Linked DNA regions of Homo sapiens: region 1 is linked to region 2. A link means that fine-mapping ties the variant in region 2 to the expression of a gene that starts in the linked region. Tissue or cell type: whole blood. Region 2 holds a variant in brackets; the other region holds the start of a gene. All regions are shown on one strand. Distances are from middle to middle. Region 1 holds the start of ADTRP (androgen dependent TFPI regulating protein). Region 2 holds the start of LOC124901258 (a long non-coding RNA gene).

Evidence for each region. PIP is the estimated chance that this variant, and not a neighbour inherited with it, causes the effect.
Region 1: it holds the start of ADTRP, and the variant in region 2 is fine-mapped to the expression of ADTRP in whole blood (TOPMed, PIP above 0.99).

Annotation. Positions count from the first base shown.
Region 1 is chr6:11,773,259-11,783,787 of GRCh38, reverse strand. It overlaps ADTRP (androgen dependent TFPI regulating protein), which reads left to right and starts at 4,985. Exons shown (of 6, transcript NM_032744.4): 1 at 4,985-5,181. The coding sequence starts at 5,029.
Region 2 is chr6:11,724,732-11,733,963 of GRCh38, reverse strand. The region is part of intron 4 of ADTRP (androgen dependent TFPI regulating protein); the gene reads left to right. It overlaps LOC124901258 (a long non-coding RNA gene), which reads right to left and starts at 6,799. Exons shown (of 2, transcript XR_007059452.1): 1 at 6,550-6,799; 2 at 2,717-3,906. RefSeq lists enhancers at 1,207-1,296, 1,577-1,876, 4,261-4,430 and a cis regulatory region at 4,345. The variant T/C (reference allele first, on the strand shown) is at 5,403.

The sequences.
Region 1 (10,529 bases), 49 kb before region 2:
TGCCGGTATGTGACATAGCCAGGTGTGGGTGAAAAGCTCTGTCAATGCAGTGTTGTTGGAGTGACATCCAATGTGGGATGCCACACGAGGATGGAGAGAGCCAGTGGGAAGTGGGCAGGTTATTAAAAGCTATGAAACTTGGATGTAATGCTGTGGGTGATGCTGATGTAGTAAAACGACATGAGCTGGTGGGGGATGTGGCATTTCAGAGAGAATCACTCACTGACCTTGTGAAAAACAGCGTTGGGGCATCAAACTAGATTCAGGAAAACCAGCTAGGTTGCTGGTTGCTATGGTGGTGGCAAGAGATGGAGGCCACTTGAACGAGGGCAGTTGTAGAAGGGATGGAAAGAAAGGGACTGATTTGACCCTGATGTAAGAAATGAACTTGGCAGGATTTGGTGGTTAACTGGATTTGAAGAGTAAAAAAGCGGGAGGACACAGGAAGCTCCCAGGTCGATGGTGAGGCCATGGTCACAGGACAGAGACTAGAGAAGAAAAGCCTGGTTTGGCGGAAGTCAGTGAGCTCGTTTTAGACGTATGGAGTTTGAGGCGTGTCTGTCTCCTTCAGGAGATTCCAACAGGTAGTCAAAGATGTGTTTGAAGCTTGGTGGGGATAGGGAGAGGGCCTGGACCAGAGGTATATAATTTGTGGTCACAAACTGGAAGGCAGTGGTAGAAATTATGATCATGGATAAAATCACTAGGGTGAGTATGTGTTGGGAGACGGACGGTAAGCTGGACCAGCTCTCTGGGGAATGCCAACACAGAAGGAGCTGGTGGAGGAAGAGGAGCTCATTAAACAGACTGAGAAGGATAGTAAGAGCATGTTGGGAGAATAAGCCTTGCTCATACGTGGCTTCCTTAGGGCTAGCTTCCCTGACGCCCTACCCACACCAGGTCTGATACTGCCATCCCCTCTAATAAGTCTGCTGTGTTTGTCCTTCACAGAAGTTGCCATAGTTATAAATTAACACTTGTTTTTGTTGTTGCTTAATGTTCATCTTTCCTGCTAAAATATAAGCTCCATGAGGGCAGGGTTTGCATCGCTCTTCTTCCTCGGGGAATCCCCAGGACCTAGCAGATAGCTGTTGCTTAATAAGTATTTGTGAAATTAAAGAATCATGTTGCGGACTCCCAGGGGGGTAGAGAGTTTCAAAGAAAGTCACTCTTAGTAACCAAGTGGCCTGTGTAGTATCCAAATCAAAGTATGAAATATGCTTATTTTTAAATGTTTAAAATTTCCTGTGTAAAATAATAAAAGTTTTGAACAATTCCTTCCCACTTCTCCTGGATATGACGTGAAGCCCTCAGATACTTGGAGAAAGGAAAAGGCAGACAAACAGCACGCTTAGTATGTATTAGTTTATAACGTGCAACTAAGAGGTGACATTCATTGCTCTCCAAAGCTCCACCTGGTCTCATGGTGGGGAACAGATGTTCAGGCTACTTCATGAAAATGGATCTGGTTATTCAACCAGGAACACAAATTATGATGTGAATATGGTTGCAATGTAGATTTTTCATTGGCAACAATTTTGTGAAAAGTTTATAAGAAAATGCAGATGTTGAATTAAGAAATAGTTTTATTTCTTAAAATATTAAAATATTTCTTAAGAAATAAAACTATTTCTTAATTCATAATCCTTAACTCATAATGTAATCCTTATATACATATATTACATGTAATTATTAAATCCTTATATACATATACATGTTATTTATTAAAATATCATTTTATTAATTATTAATATGTATTAAAATGATATTACATGTTATTAAATCCTTATATATTAATGTCATTATTTATTAAAATGCTAACAATTCATTGGATCCCAATGTAAAACACTAAAACTCTTACAAATAAATTTAAATAATTTTATCAATATTTATGAGAGGCCCCATCTGTGGGCAATGAGGCTAACGTAGAGAAAAAAACCATCTAGGTGGTGAAAGGCCAGTGTCCAGGTTTGGACACACACATCTCAGAGATTTGGGTCTTTGTCTTCCCCTCCTTTCCTACCTTTGCGTCAATCCTTACCCATCTGCAGACTTAGACTTGAGATTTTTTTTTGTATAAAGGAATAAAACCTCTAAATCAACAATGGTGTCTAAAATGAAAACACCCTTGGAGACATTCATTCATTCATATGTGCACCAAGTTTCAAAACATATTGATCCTTTTCTGAGATAATTTTCTGATGAGAGGAGAGAAGAATAAAAGGGACTCGGCCGGGCTCGGTGGCTCACGCCTGTAATCCCAGCACTTTGGGAGGCCGAGATGGGCGGATCACGAAGTCAGGAGATCGAGACCATCCTGGCTAACACGGTGAAACCCCGTCTCTACTAAAAATACAAAAAAAATTAGCCGGGCGTGGTGGCAGGCGCCTGTAGTCCCAGCTACTCGGGAGGCTGAGGCAGGAGAATGGCGTGAACCCGGGAGGCGGAGCTTGCAGTGAGCCGAGATCGCGCCACTGCACTCCAGCCTGGGCGACAGAGCGAGACTCCATCTCAAAAAAAAAAAAAGGGGCACTCAGTAGGGAGAGGAGAAATATCAAAGTGGGAGTCTGAGAGTGTGCAGAGCAACATTGTTCCTTTGTAGGCAGGTACACTGGTTGTATTAGGGTTCTCTAGAGGGACAGAACTAATAGGATGTATGTATATAAGAAGGGGAATTTATTAAGAAGTGACACACAATCACAACAACAGGCCGTCTACAAGTTGAGGAGCAAGAAAGCCAGTGGTGGATCAGTCCGAGTCTCAAAACCTCAAAATTAGAGAAGCCAACAGTGCAGCCTTCAGTCTGTGGCCAAAGGCCCGAAAGTCCCTGGCAAACCATTGGTATACATCTAGGAGTCCAAAAGCTGAAGAACTTGCAGTCCGATGTTCGAGGGCAGGAAGCATCCTGAGAGCATGGGAGAAAGATGAAGTCCGGAAGACTCAGCAAGTCTAGTCCTTCCACGTTCCTCTGCCTGCTTTATCCTAGCCACGCTGGCAGCTGATTAGATGGTGCCTACCCAGACTGAGGGTGGGTTTGCTTCTCCCAATCCACTGACTCAAATGTTAATCTCCTTTGGCAACACCCTCACAGACACACCCAGCAGCAATACTTTGCATCCTTCGAACCAATCAAGTTGACACTCAATATTAACCATCACACTGAGTTCAGACGGCAGCTCTGCCTCTTACAAAGTGTTGAACACATCCTTTTAGCAGATCGGGCTTCAATTTCCTCATCTGAAAATGTACTTAATTCGTAATAGTACTTACCTCATAGTGTTATTTAGAGTGCTAATCAGCTAATATGTGTAAAGCAACTGGAACAATGTTTAGCAAACAGTAAGTACTATAAAAGTATTAGCTTCTGTTATTATTTGCAATTTAGCCCAGGCTGTGGAGTTTTGTACAGAGTTTTATGTACCCATTTCCCAGATCACCCCTTCCTTTGAGAATGGTTTGCTATGGTCTATGTTTGTGTTCCCTGCAAATTCCTATGTTGAAATCTTAACTCCCAGGGTGATGGCATTAGGAGAGGGGAGCTTTCCGAGGTGATTAGGTCATGAGGGCAGCATCTCCATGAATGGGATTAGTGACCTTATAAAACAGGCCTCAGGGAGCTTGTTTGCCCCTTCTACCACATGAGGACTCAGCCAGAAGGCACTATTTATGAACCAGGAAACCGACCCACATTAAACACCAGGCACTCTGTCAGCATCTTGATGTTGGACTTCCAGCCTCCAGAACTGAGAAATAAATTTCTGTTGTTTCCAAGCTTCCCAGTTTACAGTATGTTGTTATAGCAGCCCCAACAGATGAAAAAAAAAAAAAAAAAAAAAAACATGGTTACAATGCAGAACTCCATGGCGGGCTCAGGTTTGCTCTCCTCCCATCTCCCAATCCTGATATTGGGAGTCTGTTGACTCTTAGGAGGTGGGTTTGTTTATGGTTTGTCCTCCTTGTCCAGCCTACAGTTCTTTCTGCTAGTACTTTTAAGCCCTGGTTAAGTCATTGAAAAGCACCAATTACAGACTTACATAACTGTGTCAGGAGCATTTCTCTGAGGGATTTGCTCACCCCTCGGAGTCAGTTGCCCAGGGAAACAAGCTGGCGATGTCACAAGGCATCCACTTCTAGTTCTTCCTCAGTTCCCTTCTGTGGAACCTGAGTCAGAGCCTAGTCCGGCATGCTGCCTAGCCCAGCCACGTCTCATCCTATTCATGGCAGAGCGGGGACTCTCACCCTCTCCCAGCAATGTCTAAAGTCAGGTATTTTGGGGTCATGGCCATAGTAAGGATGGTCTCCTGTGCTGCTTCTTCCCTCCCAGGGCACAGAAATGCCTATGCAAATGGAGTGTCTAGGACAGCCCTGGGTTACTCTTGGTTCTCTAGGGTATAGTTACAAAAGTGAAAAAAAAAAGAAAAGAAACCATTGGAGCTGCTCCCTGGAGGATCAAAGGTTGTTGCAGACTTTCTAGAATCTCAGAGACCTCAGGAGCAAAATTACAACACACTTTTCCTTTCTACTGTTCATGCCCTAAGCACACCCATGATCTGGTTTATCAACCTGCTCCTCCTTTTCTCAAGAGATAAGGTTGCAACTTCCTTGTTATATGCAAATGAAAAGAAAAGAGACTACAGCCATGGAAGTATTTCGCTAGATTTTCCTAGTATTTCATGCTTACTTCATTTAACCATGCCCCTGCCCCAGTGCCCTAGTGAAACAGTACAATGTACAGCTCTTGCATTGCTACCTGCCCTTCTCAAAGCCCACATGTTGTATTTTATGCAAATCTACAGATTATCTATCATTATCTAAATGCAGGCATCTGAAAACCAGCAGTAATCCTGCCTCTGAAGTTTATCAGGAAAGGAGCTTAAAAGAGAACCAAATTCAGCCTGTGTTGGAACTCTCAGTCCCAGAGGGGTGTGGTTTGTAGCTCTCCGGCCTGCTGTTGGACTTAGGCTGTGACCCACAGAAGGACGCCAGAAAGTACTCAAGACATTCACGGTGCCCCGGTCAGCACTCGCCATGACGAAGACTTCTACATGCATATACCACTTCCTTGTTCTGAGCTGGTATACTTTCCTCAATTATTACATCTCACAGGAAGGAAAAGACGAGGTGAAACCCAAAATCTTGGCAAATGGTGCAAGGTGGAAATATATGACGCTGCTTAATCTGGTAAGTCCATATGTCCGTACCAGGAACCGATCCATTTCTCTAGAATATCAGTGCTGCCACACATATCATCTTTGGATTTTATTAAATACACAATTTTGTTATTTGTCTTCCTTCTTCACCGTTTTGTGAGTTTTGGGTTTTTTGTTTACTTAACAATTTGCTCTGATAAACCCAATTTGGAAATTATCTATAGTTAACATTTCTATGCTGGCTCATTGTTAAATGCTCTCTTGAAAAAAAAAATCTCATCTTGGAGCTCTTTTCAGATGAGCTCAAAGAGGGGACCATGCTAATGGTTTCACCATGGGATTAACTACAAATGCAGGAGGCATTTTGAACTTTGCTTGGGGAAGTCTGTGAAGAGAAGGCAGAGTGGCGTATGGTGTGTAGGAAGTGTAATTTCCAATGAAGGAATAATGCCATTTTACAGCACACACAGACTAACAGATTTATCTAAGAAAAGCAAACACATTTTGCCATGTTCAGCTCCCACCTCAATTTTTTATAGGTTCAGGCTCCATCTTAAAGGACAAATCACCCAACCGAATGGCAAATACACATTTTCAACTATTTAAAAACCAATCTTATGACTTACTCCTTTCTTGTCTTCCTAACCTGGCTGACTGCATTCTGATGAAGTGTGAATGAATGGGAGAAAAGCAGATTATGAAAAATACTTTGAGGAATAGCTTAAAAAAATACTTTTAAAGTTAAAAGCTAATAATGGGGAATCATTTGGGGATGTGAATTAATATTTGAGGTTTTTGACTAAAATCTTGGGTGCCACATAAACATCTGTTTTCAGAATTGTAATCCTCATTTGACAAGCGGAGAATGTATGTGGTCAGAAACTGTGACACTCTGAAATGCTAAGGACGTGGAAATGGAGAGAGTTAAAATCAAAGAGGCCCAAAGTGGCTGCTTCCTCCTCACTGGTTGGTTAGTGGCCTCTTGATTTGGGCCTGAAAAATTGGAACCCTGAACACAGCTCTAGTGTCTTTGAAAACTTCAAGGTGACTACTTGTTTCAATCATGGAATTTTATGAGAAAAACAAACAGAAACAAAACAAAAAATGTTTTTTGTATAACTAGCAGTGCCACAGTAAACAACAACAACAAAAAACCACACACACACACGCGCATACACACACACCCCTAAGGTTTGTGTCTCTATTGGCTTTCTATGAAAAACAGTCCACTAAAAGGGAAGTGTGTCTGTAGTTAGGACTGACTTTCTAATAAAATCCAATTCCAGTATGAATGTCCTACCTCACACTATGTGTGGCTAAGAATAGATTTATCACCACACTCATTAACTAGCTCCCTTACCTCTTTGTATACACACACACACACACACACAACTGATCCTGACTTTTTAATTCTAGCTCACCTACATTTCCAAGAGCCCTTATTTTCCAAGAGTGAGAAAAGTCTCTTATCTTGTCAATGATACTATCATTTCCTAGTGTTAATCCCAATTTTGCTTCCCTGATTGATCAGCTACCAAATCCTATTAGTTTTTCCTTTTACTAAGTTCATCCTTTCTTCTTCAACCTTACTACTGTCTCTCTCATTCCAGGCTTATATTAAGCCTACCTGGATGACCATATCATCTCTTTACTGTCCATTCATGGTCCAATCCAGCCACTTAGATTCCAAATTAATCTTCTCAAAGCACTGGTTTTGGTTTGTTTTTTAATACCATGACCTGGATCTAAAAGTGTGGCCTGCCGCTCAGGAAACCACAGTGGCTCCCTCCTGCCTCATGGACCCAATGTCAAACTCCCGATTCAAGAGCTCACCTGCCCAACCAGCCTTTCGGGTTCCCTCTCCCTGGGAGGCTGGTCTCTTCTGCAGTAAGGACTGCGTCTCACTAGTATTGGTCCTTGGGCTTCCTGCTGTCACTTCTCTGCCCGGTGTTCTCTCTATCCTTAGAAGAAAGGCCTACTTACCTCTCTCCACCACATTGCTTCTTTCATAGAACATTGGGAATCACATATACTCCTCCCAAATCCTTGCTGACCAACTCCAGTCCAAATTTCCTTTTCCTTTCTCTGATTTTCACAGCATCTCTCAGTCTCTGCTGATTTATATGTAGTATTGTTTTCTAATTCCCTCTCTCCCTGCCATGTGAGTCTTAACATTCCAATCAAACTTTGGCTCCAAAACAGAAGTTTTTTTTAATCTTAGGTCCTTGCCAACCCTAACTGTCTATATTTCTACCTTGAATTCAGCACAGTGGCTGGCACAGGATACCCAGATATTAAAAAGCTGCGACTTGGTACGTTGACGTGACCTCAGCCTTTCTGCATCCTCAAGCAGTCCCTCTCTTCTGGTATCTTCTGGCCCTCGTAAATAAGCTGAGAGGGGCTTGCCTGTGGTGATTTTCTTTCTGAGCTCCATTAGGAGTCATCTTGAAAGTGTGACCTAATGAAATGCTTCCCAACTGGTGAAGATGGGTTGAGTGTATTTCAGAGGATCGATTTAATGTAGATTTCGAATATGTTGCTTAAGGTGAAATATTGGACCTGCAAATGTCTAGCTCTTGAGATTCATGGGCTGATTAATGGTTGTGTCTCCTAATGATTAATTAGTGTTCATTCATGACTAATTAATTGGTGGTTGTGTTTATTAAGTCATAAAGGTCTCACAACTTACGCTCACATTCTTATATTTATTTTACCTCACCTTGGGGAAGTTAGTATCCAGTCCTGATTACCAGAAAATTTACACCCCTCCTCGTAAACAGCTTGAATTTCTAATTGGCTGAGTATCATTTTTGTCCCCTTTGTAAGAGCAAAGCCCCCTTTTGTGCCAGTTGGCACTGTGAGCATTGCCCCAGTTCCCCTTGAAGCTATCCCAGGGGACTGGAAGGGGAGACAGACAGGAGACAGGAGACAGACACGAGTTGCACTGAGCTACTCCCCTGGGGTTGGTGGTAGTGGCTAAGGTGCCATTGAGAATTGGTCAGGGTGACCCATTTCTGACTAAGGAGAGTGAAGGTAGGAGAGGACAGATGGGAGTCTCTGCCTAATAAGAGAGTAAACTGACCTCAGTGAAGGGGCCACTGATTCCCTGCTGGGAGGGAGAGGTGGTATTTCACAATGGTTACAATTGCGATCTCTGGGATGGTACCTCAGTCCCACTGCTTACTGCCCCCGAGACCCTGGGCTAGGCACTTCTTTGTGTCTTTCATTTCCACGTCTGTCAAATAGAAATAAAAATAGTACCTAACCATAGGGTAGCCATGGGGGAGAAATGATCTGACAGGTGGGAAGCGCTCAGAATGGCGTCAGCAGGGTGTTAGGCAGTGGACAGTGGGGAGAGAAGATGGGGAGGTGATGGTGAACTTCTCTGGGTAGAGAAGGTGATGCAGGAGGGTGACTTAGTAGAACATCAGTCTCCTCACTGAGCACCTAGGTTGTTGCGGGGTGGAGGCCAGCAGGAGTCATCCACCCCCTTCCCCTTCATGGCTACTATTTCTCCCTCCCCGAGCTGCATGCCCCATCTTCCCAGCTGGAGAAGGACCACTGTCGAGCCACTGCTCTCCCTGCTGTAGCTGCCCGCAGGCACCAGGCCGTCCTGGTGGTAGAGTCTGCAGGCTCCAGCAGACAGCCATGCAGAATGGGGAACCCCAGAGGCTAGGCGTGAGACCAAGGCAGTGCCATGGGTGTCCTCAAGCAGCTTAGGTTGGCTCAGATCATCCAGTGCCTGAGTCCTCCACAAATGCTATGTCCCTTGCTCTCTGTCCACCCCATTTCCATCCAGGGACTGTCCCTAATCCCAGAGAATATGAGCTAGGGGGTTTAGGGCAAGGCTCAGCAGCCACAGCTTGGCTCGCAGAATTCATTCAGTTTATTAGGGTTTCCTCTTTTTAAAGATAAGCTTCCTTCTGAAACATTGTTAGAGGTGGGGCCACATAACTGGGATCTCCAGGGGAGATTCTGAGTGGGCCCCTCCCTCCCCACGCCCCTGACACCCCCTTCAACAACAGAAGCATGACCTTTCCCTCCCTTTTCATAAGTTGCCCAAGCCCCAGGCAGCTCCGTCGTCATCACCCTCAACTTCTCATGATGACAACAGTGGCAATACCACATAAGTCCTTGGGGTTGCTGGCCTGGGGCTGGGGGAACAGAGGAGCTGGGAGGCCTCTATGGGTCTAAACTTCAAGGCAGCCTGTGAACAGTGAGAAGATGGGGTTGAATTTATAGTATGGCACCCACTTCAACACTTGGGGGACCAACCTTAAGTAATAATCTATGGCACTATTTATTTATTTATTTATTTATTTATTTTTGAGATGGAATCTCTCTCTGTTCCCCCAGGCTGGAGTGCAGTGGCACAATCTTGGCTCACTGCAACCTCTGCCTCCTGGGTTCAGGTAATTCTCCTGCCTCAGCCTCCTCAGTAGCTGGGACTACAGCATGCACCACCATGCCTGGCTAATTTTTTTTGTATTTTTAGTAGAGATGGGGTTGCACCATGTTGGCCAGGTTGGTCTCAAACTCCTGACCTTGTGATCCGCCTGCCTTGGCCTCCCAAAGTGCTGGGATTACAGGCGTGAGCCACCGCACCCAACCCCTATGGCACTCTTCAGCAACGTGGAGTCAGAAATACACTTAACTATTTCTGCCTCACAAAGATGCACTTCAATAGCTGAAAGGGTAAGGACTGAGAGAACTATGTGATAGTCACCACCAGCACCCAAAATAAAGCAGCTATAAATTATTGAGCAAGTAACTATGACAGCATTTTGGTAGGTTCTTTGGACGCAGTATAGAGATGAGTGATTGAAGACCTGGCTTCTGAAACCAGAACACTGGCTGTGCTCACTTGCTGTGTGATTTTGAGTGACTTGCCTAACTTCTCTGTGCTTCAGTTTTCTCATGTGCAGTGGATACTCTGATAAGGCACCCAGATCCTCATACCTCCCCAGCGCTGAGGTACTCAGTCCCCAGCTCTCAGGAGTGTTGGCTGCTGATGGTGCAAAGCTGAGATCCCCTCCCAGAATTGCCCTCAGCAGAAGGGAGCTGCCTCGACCAAGGTTTAGGTCCCTCCCTGGCGTTGCTGCCTGCCATAACTGGCATCCAATATGGGGTGCAAATGCTGCACTCCCGGACAGCTCTGAACGAGCAGCTCAGCTCAGAGCTCCTCAAGGGATCAGCTGATTCCATGCAACTGCCCAGCACTTAGCCTCCCCCACTTCAATCCTTCTCCCTTTTTGCCTCTCATAGATGTCTGAGAGCGTTCTTCAGTGAACATCCTGCAGGCACATCTCAGAATCTCAGATTGTTTCCCACGGAACCTGACCTGCATCGTGTAAAATACCAAACATACAGAAAAGGTTT
Region 2 (9,232 bases):
TTTCAGTTCACATATCTGACCCTTGTTTTTCTTTTCCTTTTTGGGGATGAAGAAGATGAAAAGCACCTAAGGCCACTGCTGTTATTGGGGAAAATTGTAGTGGCTATAAAAATGAGTAGTAGAGGCCAGGAGGTTGGTTTGTCAGTACCTGGGCGGGTGTCCCCATGATGCAGGTAATTAGGATGTTGGAGAAAGAAATGCCACAGGATGGGAGCCAGGTACAAGTGCATCGTTATCCATTCAGTGGTTCACCAGCGCCAGGCACTGTGCTAAAATATGGAGGATACAGTGAAGTTCAGGAAACCTGCTACCTTTAGAGGCTGTCCGGGAAAGAGGAGCATAACAGACAGTGGGAGACAGGGTGATAGGACTGTAATAGGCATAAGCCCAGGATGCTATGGGCACACAGAGAGATGTGCAGGACTGGCTTCTTAAAGGGAAGCACTGTCTAAGCTGAGGCCCAAGGAATGAATAAGAATAGGTCAAAAGAGACATGGAAAAGACCTTCAGGCAGAAAAAACAGCATCTGCAAAGGGCTGGAGGAGCTGAGGGTATGGCTGAATTGGAGGACAGGGTAAAGCCAGGTCGTAAATCCACATTAGTGCGTTTGGACTTTTAAACCAAGTGCTTTTCTGTAGAAAAGTGTTATAATCAGAGGAATGAAATGATGTGGTTTATGTAAGAAAGCTGATTAGAAAGATGATTCTGGCTGAAGTGTGGACATTAGACTGAAGAGGAACAAGACAGGTAGACCAGTTGGTGGCATTGCTGGTAACTCAGGGGAGTTGATGTTAGCCAACTGATGATAACATCAGTCAATCCACAAATAAAATCAGAGAGTGTGAACAATGGGAGGTGACTTAGAGATGACTTAGCATTGGAAAACTAAATCTCCAGTAGGGTAGATGACATGCCCATGGTCATATGGCAGAGGTGGGGTAGAGATGCAAAGCTGGTACTTGAGCCAACTAAAACTGAGGTCTCCTCTCTCCAAATCCAGTTGTCTTTCCACTGTGTTTACATGGCCAGGTATTTGTTCAATTCCCAGTGTGTGCAAAACCATTCAGCTAAATGCTGGATGGATGGGCATGCACAAAGCTTGACCTAGCTCTGCACTTTGAAATCTTTCACGTGTTGTTCCCAGCTCTATGTGCTTGGATTAGACATTAAAGTACTGGTAATGAAGGGAGTGGAGGGAAGGGATGGAGACCTGTCACCAGCAGGAACGTGACTGGGTGAGCCCCAGTGCCCAGTGGGGAGCTGAGGTGGTTTGGGATTTCGTCCTTCATGAAAAATGCTAAGTTGGTATTTGGTCCACTAAGCCCCATTTTTGCTAGAACAAATCAAATATAGACACTTAAAGGAGGGTGTTTGATGTGATCCTGTTGATGGAAGCATCTCTATTTCTGCTCACGCCCTGGTTAGAGGAGCTCAGACTCTTTGGTGCCTGCCAACCCCACCCTTACGCAGTTTCCAGGGCCCCTGGCTCCTCACAGCCACAGATGGCCATGAAGTTCTACAAACTGCAGACACCCATGGAGACGTTTTAGGGAAGTGGCTATGGGCCCACTGTCAGATGTGCCAGTTTGGACAGTCAAATGGGGAAATGGCATAACACGAATGAGGTAAAGAGCATGGGCTCGGGCCAGAGGGAGCGTGAGAAACGAACATGAGTCAGGAAAACGGCACTGAAGCTGAGCTGGAGAAGCATTTCACCGCCGAAACCATGTTCAAATGACCTAAAAATAGTTCCTGAGACCGTGGGGACCGCCTTACATGTGGTGGTTGCTTTTAGTTATTTTTCAGATTGCAAAATTGAAGAGCTCTCCCCTAAGTGGGAAAATAAAGCTTTGCAAAATAGTAATGACTGCAAAGCTTTCATTTCCTTTGGAAAGCATTAGTCACCTTTAAATATGGTAGCTCACTTATTTCTCCCTTCTCTCCTACCCCAAAACACCTCACCTAGTTCTCCCTGAGGCAGTGGTGAGGAGCAAAAAAATAGAAATGTTCCTTCTGCTGGTTTTTATTCTTTCTTTTATTGAATAAATATTTTCCCTAACACATGGTTGGTCCTGCCCAGAAAAGCAATGTTATATCAGGCCAAGCTTCAGCCTGCAGGGGGTTTATCCTTAATAAGTGGAGATGACCCATGCATACAAATTATAAGTGCAGAAGATGGAAAGTGGTAAAACCTCATAAAAAAAACACAAGGAGCCACAGAAAAGGAAGAGTTTGCATCCAGCTGAGCGGTGTGGGAAGGGCACTGTGGAAGGCATGCATTGGATCTGAGCCCTGAAGGACCGGCAGGATTGGAGCTAGAAAAAATGAGAGAAGGTAAACAAAAGGAGCACAGTCCCAAGGCCAGGAGAGTGCAGAAAGCGTGAGAGCAAGGGTCAGTAATTCTCTTTGCTGGACCTGTTTGTGAAAGAGACTAATGAGAAATATCCCTGGAACTACCCACTCATGAAGGCTTGCAGATGGCAGACTAGAGGATGTTGGACATAGTATAGAAAATGGGAGCATTTGTTGTTGCTGTTGTTTGTTTGTTTGTTTGGAGTGGAAGCAAGGGTGAGCAGTATTTGTAACTTGGCCAGCAAATTATGCTTTAAAATGTCATTCTTGACAATAGTGCTTCAAATAAGTTGGAGTGACAAGAGATGGGAAACAAAATAAAATATAAACCAATATAAAAATAAAAACTAGCCAGCACATTATGTACTTTGATCACAATGTCTTAGTTTTTATGTATGGTTATTTCACAGTTCCAGTGATATCCCCAAGCACCCTTCTGCCTTGGAGGTCTTGGTCCAGTTTTCCAAGGAGTTCCAATAATCTGCTGAGTGCTCACACATGCCCCTGTCGTGCACTGCACAACCCATGCTGCACACTGTTCTGAGCATTGTTCTTACACACAGATAGCAAAACTGTAATCCCCACTGGGTCCAACATCCCCACCTGGCACAGTGTTAAGGGTTAGCACACCATGCCCACTGCTGATGCCAACAGTGTCATTTACCCATCAGCCCCCTGTGTTGGTAGAATTAACAATGTTACTCGCCACAGCAACCACCCCAGCTGGCCTGGAGTGCATCATCACACTGCTCTTGGTAGACCAGAAACCTACTGATGCTGCAGGTGTCCCTGCTAGTGTGTAAAGTATTGCATGCCCCGTACAAACACTGCACAGATATGCAGCTGTCACCCAGCCTTGGGGCAGATGTTTGTAAAGTCCCTTCCCCAAAGTAGTTGCTATGAGGCAAGAGAGAGAATTACTTTCTTTTATACTGTGCTCTCCAGGGTAAGATCCCTCAGCAAAGCTTCCTGGGTTCCCAGAAGTAACAGTTCTTTAAATTCATGCCTCATTTACAAATACATGTACACATCTTACCCTGAGAATACATTAAAAACTGCCAAGGGGTGGACTAAGCTGAGTTCCAGGACCAGCCACCTTGCCATTTCCAGAATCAGCAATTCTCTTCTTCTCTTTCTGGTTTTTATTCATTTTTCTATTGAATAAATATTTTCCCTAACACATGGTTGGTCCTGCTCAGAACCAACCATGTTGTGAACTCCCTACCAGAGCCACTGTTACCGTTTCCAAAATATGACCTTCAACTGAGATCATCCAGGTCAACCATAGCTTTATAACCTCAACTCAGCAGGGATTGGAATCTCAGCACCATTTTCCACAGAAGAAATCCTTACCCTACCTGTAAATTCATATATGAAAATTAATTAAAAAGATGCCACACAACACATCCTTGTTGTCAACATGCGGGGTCCAGCCCAGCCAGGATCCAAACTGAAGAGGGATGGAGGTGGAGGACTAGGAGAGGAGAGGGTATCTCATCTCCTGCTCTTCTCATCTTTCCTGTTCAAACCTTAGTTCTTATTCAACCAAAATGCCTGTAACAGAAATCAGAAATAATAACGGCATGAAGAGAGTAAAACTGTAGAATCAGAAATGAGAGACATGCCTGAGACACATTGTTGAAACAACAGAATAGGTTTTATGGATTGATTGACATGTACCACACAAATGAAAAGGAAAAATTAGGATAATTCTAAAAATTTTAAGTTAGTAGACAAGAAAAATGGTGATTCCATTGATAGATGAAAATGAATTGTGAAAGTAATCGTCTTGGGTATAAGTAAAACAGTCAGTTTAATATCCCATATCTAGGTCTCATTTCAAAAATACTCTGGTTTAATTGGTTCAGGATATGCCCTCAGCATTGGAATTTTTAAGGCCCTCAAGTCAATTCTAATTTTGAGACAAGATTGAGAATCACCTGCCTGGAGGAATTTCCATTCAGAAATTCAGACCCTGCAGTCTCAAGAAAGATGGGGCTGAGGAGATGCAGCTAGTTGAACCCTCGTGGAGTGACAAGATTGCTGGAAAGAGAGAGAGGAGAGAGGGAAGATAAGTAAGAAGCAAACACCAGGGAAAGGCCCTCCTCTCAGGGACAGGAGGGGGAAGGAGCAGCAAAGGTAGCAAGGAATTACCAGGTAGTAGAAGGGCAGGAAGTTAGAAAACCATGGGCCCTGAAGGCAGAGAGGCTTCAAACTGGAAGGGGGTGTCTCAGGGAGGGGTTGGGCAACAGCTCTAAATGCCGTGATGAGGTTGCCACCCCAATGACTCTCATCACTGCCGACACCTCAACATCTAGGTAAACTATTTGACTAACACTCTAGCCTTGCAGTTTCTCCTGACTCTTTCTGTTTGATTTATTCTCCTGGGCTGGAAAGACGTGACCTGAGGGTTAACACCGAAAGAAAGAATTATATGCCCAAAGCCCACAAAACTCCGTTATCTGTTTATCTGCCACCCACAGACGTCGGTATTTCTCTACTGATAAGACGCAGAAGTTATGAATTTCTTGACAGCCATTATAATGCTCTAAGATTTAGGATAAGGAGACCCTAAAAGATTAATTTTTGGCTGCCATTTGGTGCCCACCCAGTCCAACTCACAGAGGTTCACGTAGCAGATGGCTCAAGAAAGATGTGAAATTGCTCTTTGAACTGAGGGGCAACGTCATTGGCCTCTTCAAAGTATTAGTAAAGTGAGATTAACCAAAACTTGAAAGGCCACTGGGTACATTTCCAAATTTCCAGAGCCTGTGGTGGTCTTGGTGAGTCAGGCGACTGAGAGCCGTCCATAGCAGTGTCCTACAGAGCCACCCAACACAGCCATTCATTTCAAAATTCAAAGAACCTGCTGCATTTTGGGCACTTGGCAAATAAATGTGCCTGACAGAGACAGTCCCTGCCCCTGCAGAGCTTTCAAGCTAGTGAGAAAAACAATCAAATAAGTAACAAAGGTAAGTTCCAGGGTGGAGGAAGCACCTGGCGTAAGCATTTACCCGAATCAGGGTTGGGGGAGAGAGCTTCAGGAAATC[T/C]TTTCTAGAGAAATAGACTTTTAAGCTGAGATTTGAAGCGTGAGTAAGATTCAGCCAGACACAGGGCAAAGAGAAGTAGGTTCCAGGAAACAAAAAGGTCAGAGGTGTACCCAGTGAAGACAACAGCAGGTGTGAAAGCCAAGAAACTGCAGCGCTCAGTTCACTCAAGAAACAAAGGGGTTCAATATGGATGGACTGCAGATCTCCAGATGGAAGCGGGGCATGGCCAGGCCAGGTAAGCAGCTGGGATCCTGGGATTCACTGCAGGCAGGGGAGGGCTGTGGACAGAGCTCGCTTTTAGGAAGATTACCGGATTACTGATGGCTTGCAATAGGGGAAGTGGGTTGAAAGGAGCAAGAAAGCCTAGTTGGTAGACAATGACAGAAACCCAAATGGAATGAAGGAGGCTGAAGGAAGATTGTGAAATGTGTGCGCTGAAGAAACATTTAGAAGGAAGTTTAGTATAGATATGATTTCATGGGATCAAACTTGGGGGCAAGATTGAATGGAGGGCTGACATTGGCTGAAATAGAAGACATGTTGAATGCAAAGTTCCCTCCCTCCCTCCCTCCCTCCCTCCCTACCTACCTCCCTCCCTCCCTGCCTCCCTTCCTTCCTTCTTTCCGTCCTTCCTTCCTTCCTTCCTTCTTCTTTCCCCTCTCTCTTCCCACCTTCCCCTCATATTCAGGCAAGCCATAAAGAAGTGATGTCAACTAACAGTGTGACTCTGTCCTCATTCACGCCTCTCTGCTGAGTACCCTTGGTAAATTACTATCATCTTGCCTCATACTCTGTATCTCTGTTAATTTTCCTACTGTCAGGTACCACACCTATAACTTTCCTTACACTTTATCTGTGAAAGTACACAATTCATTAGCTTACCTCGGGAACTTTCTTTTACAAGCCTTATGCTGAAGGAAACAAACATGAAGTAAACAGAAATTTTCCAAGCCTCTGGGGGGATGTCCTTATTTATAGACTATCTTACATAAATGTGCATGGGAATTCAGAAGCCCTAATTTCAACTATATAAAGTAAACAAAGTGAACTAAGTGATGCAACTTTTTGGAGTACATTCAGAGCTCCTCACTGACTCCAAACTCCTAGCCCTATCTACTTGAAACTGTTTATTTTCTATGCCATATACCTTCTTTGTCCTGCCATGAGAAGTAGCCATGCAGGTAAGAATCACTGTGGGCATCCTGTAATGCATCCATGGAACGCATATCTTAAAGAACTCTAGGCTGGCCATGGTGGCTCATGCTTGTAATCCCAGCACTTTGGGAGGCTGAGGTGGGCGGATCACAAGGTCAGGAGTTTGAGACCATCCTGACCAACATGGTGAAACCCTGTCTTTACAAAAAATACAAAAATTAGCTGGGCATGGTGGCGCACGCCTGTAAACCCAGCTACTCGGGAGGGTGAGGCAGGAGAATCGCTGAACCCAGGAAGCGGAGCTTGCAGTGAGCCGAGATTGCACCACTGCACTCCAGCCTGAGCAACAGAGTGAGACTCCATCTAAAAAAAGAAAAAGAATTCTAATATTAGTAACAATGATGATAATTATTGTTTGTTCTAGTCACCTCATTCTCAATCTGGGAGGAACATCCAGACAAGTTTGGGAAAGCAGAGTGATACCAGCAGGGCCCAGGCGAGGAACTAAATGCCAACCCTACATTTATATGACCCTAAAATTGACACCTCCTTAGATACATTTAAATTGTGGTAAAAGGTACACAATATTTACAACTTTAACGATTTTAAGTGATTTACCATTTTGATCATTTTTAAGCTCTGTAGCATTTTGTACATTTACCTTGTTGTGCATCCATCACCACCATCCATCTCCAGAACTTTTACATCTTCCCAAACTGAAAGTCTACCCGTTAAACAATAACTCCCTGGCTCAGTCCATTTTGTGTTGCTATAAAAGGATATCAGAGATTGAAAAGAGGTTTATTTAGTTCATATTCTGCAGGCTGAGAAGTTCAAGGGCATGGCCCTGGCTGCCGACAAGGGCCTTACTGCTGCCTCACAATGTGGTGGAGAAGATCAAAGGGGAAATGGACACGTGTGAAAAGGGCAAAACCTGAGGGGCACCCTAGATTTATAACAACCCATTCTCATAGAAAAAATCCATTTCTAGAGCTTACTATCACAAGAACAGCATCAAACCATTCTTAGGAGATCCAACCCCATGACCCGAACACCTCCCACTAGGCTCCCCCTCCCAACACCAACACACGCAGGACCAAATTTCAACATGAGTTTTGGTACGAACAAACAAACCATATTGAAACCATAGATAGCATTCCCCGCTGCCTCCTCCCGCAACCACATGGCAAGCACCATTCTACTTTCTCCCTCTATGAATCTGACATTCTAGGTTTCTCATATAAATGGAATTATACAGTATTTGTCCTTTTACGACTGGTTTATTTCACTTACCATGTCTTCAAAGTTGATCTGTGTGGTAGCATGTGTCAGAATGTTCTTCCTTCTTAATGCCTATGTATAAGCCACATTTTATTTATCCATTCATCTATCAGTGGGCACTTGGGGAGATTCCACCTTCAGGCTATTGTGAATAATGCTGCTATAAACATGGGTGTACAAATATCTCTTCAGATCCCTGTTTTCAATTCCTTTTTTTTTTTTTTTTGAGATAGAGTCTCATTCTCTCGCCCAGGCTGGAGTGCAGTGGCGCGATCTCCAATCACTGCAAGCTCTGCCTCCCAGGTTCATGCCATTCTCCTGCCCTCAGCCTCCCAAGTAGCTGGGACTACAGGCACCTGCCACCACGCCTGGCTAATTTTTTGTATATTTAGTAGAGATGGGGTTTCACCATGTTAGCCATGTTTTCAGTTCTTTTGGGTGTGTACCCAGAAGTGGAATTGCTGGATCAGATGGTAATTCTATTTTAATTTTGGGGAGAACCACCATATAGTTTTCCAAGGCAGATGTACCATCTTCCATTCCTACCAACAATGAACAAGGGTTCCAATTTCTCTATGTCCTTACTAACACTTGTTATCTTGTCTTTTTAAAAAAAATATAGTATCCATCCTAATGAGTGTAAGACAATATCTCACTGTCATTTTGATTTGCATTTCTTCTAGTTATTAGTGATGTTGAACATCCTTTCATGCATTTGTTGGCCTTTTATGTATCTTCTCTGTAAAAGGTCTATTCAAGTCCTTTGTCCATTTTTAATTGAGTTATTTGGGTTTTTTGTTATTGTTGAGTTACAGGAATATTTTACATATTTTGGATATTAACCCCTTATTAGAGATATGATTAGAAATATTGTTTCCCATTCCATGGATTGCCTTTTCACACTGTTTATTGTGTCCTTTGTTGCAGAGATGATCCCTTAAGTTTTACACCCTAGGGCCTCTCTTGCTTCACCCTACTCCCGGTCCTGAATATAGCCCTTGACTCTTCCACAAACCATTTAACAAACTTCAAGTATTTGAAATGACAGAGATCACCCTTGGGTTTCTGAAAGTTTAAGCACAGAATTTCATTCTTCCATCTGAATTCCTTTGACAACGTGGGATATTCAAATTTAAATATTGTTTTTGAAGCATAACCTGGCCTATCCTAATTGCTACAAGAGATCAGCAGCTTCAAAGAAGGCTTTCTGAGAGCACTCCCATTGTGCCATCCCTCAGTGGAGATGGAAGCTTTTGAACTCTTGTCAAATATTACAATGTGCCAAGCACTGTTCTGTGTCTTTTACATGTGTTAACTCCCGTAATCTTTACAACAGCCTTAGAAGGTGTATGCTGTTTGGATCTTCACTTTACACATTGAGGAGATGGGGACAG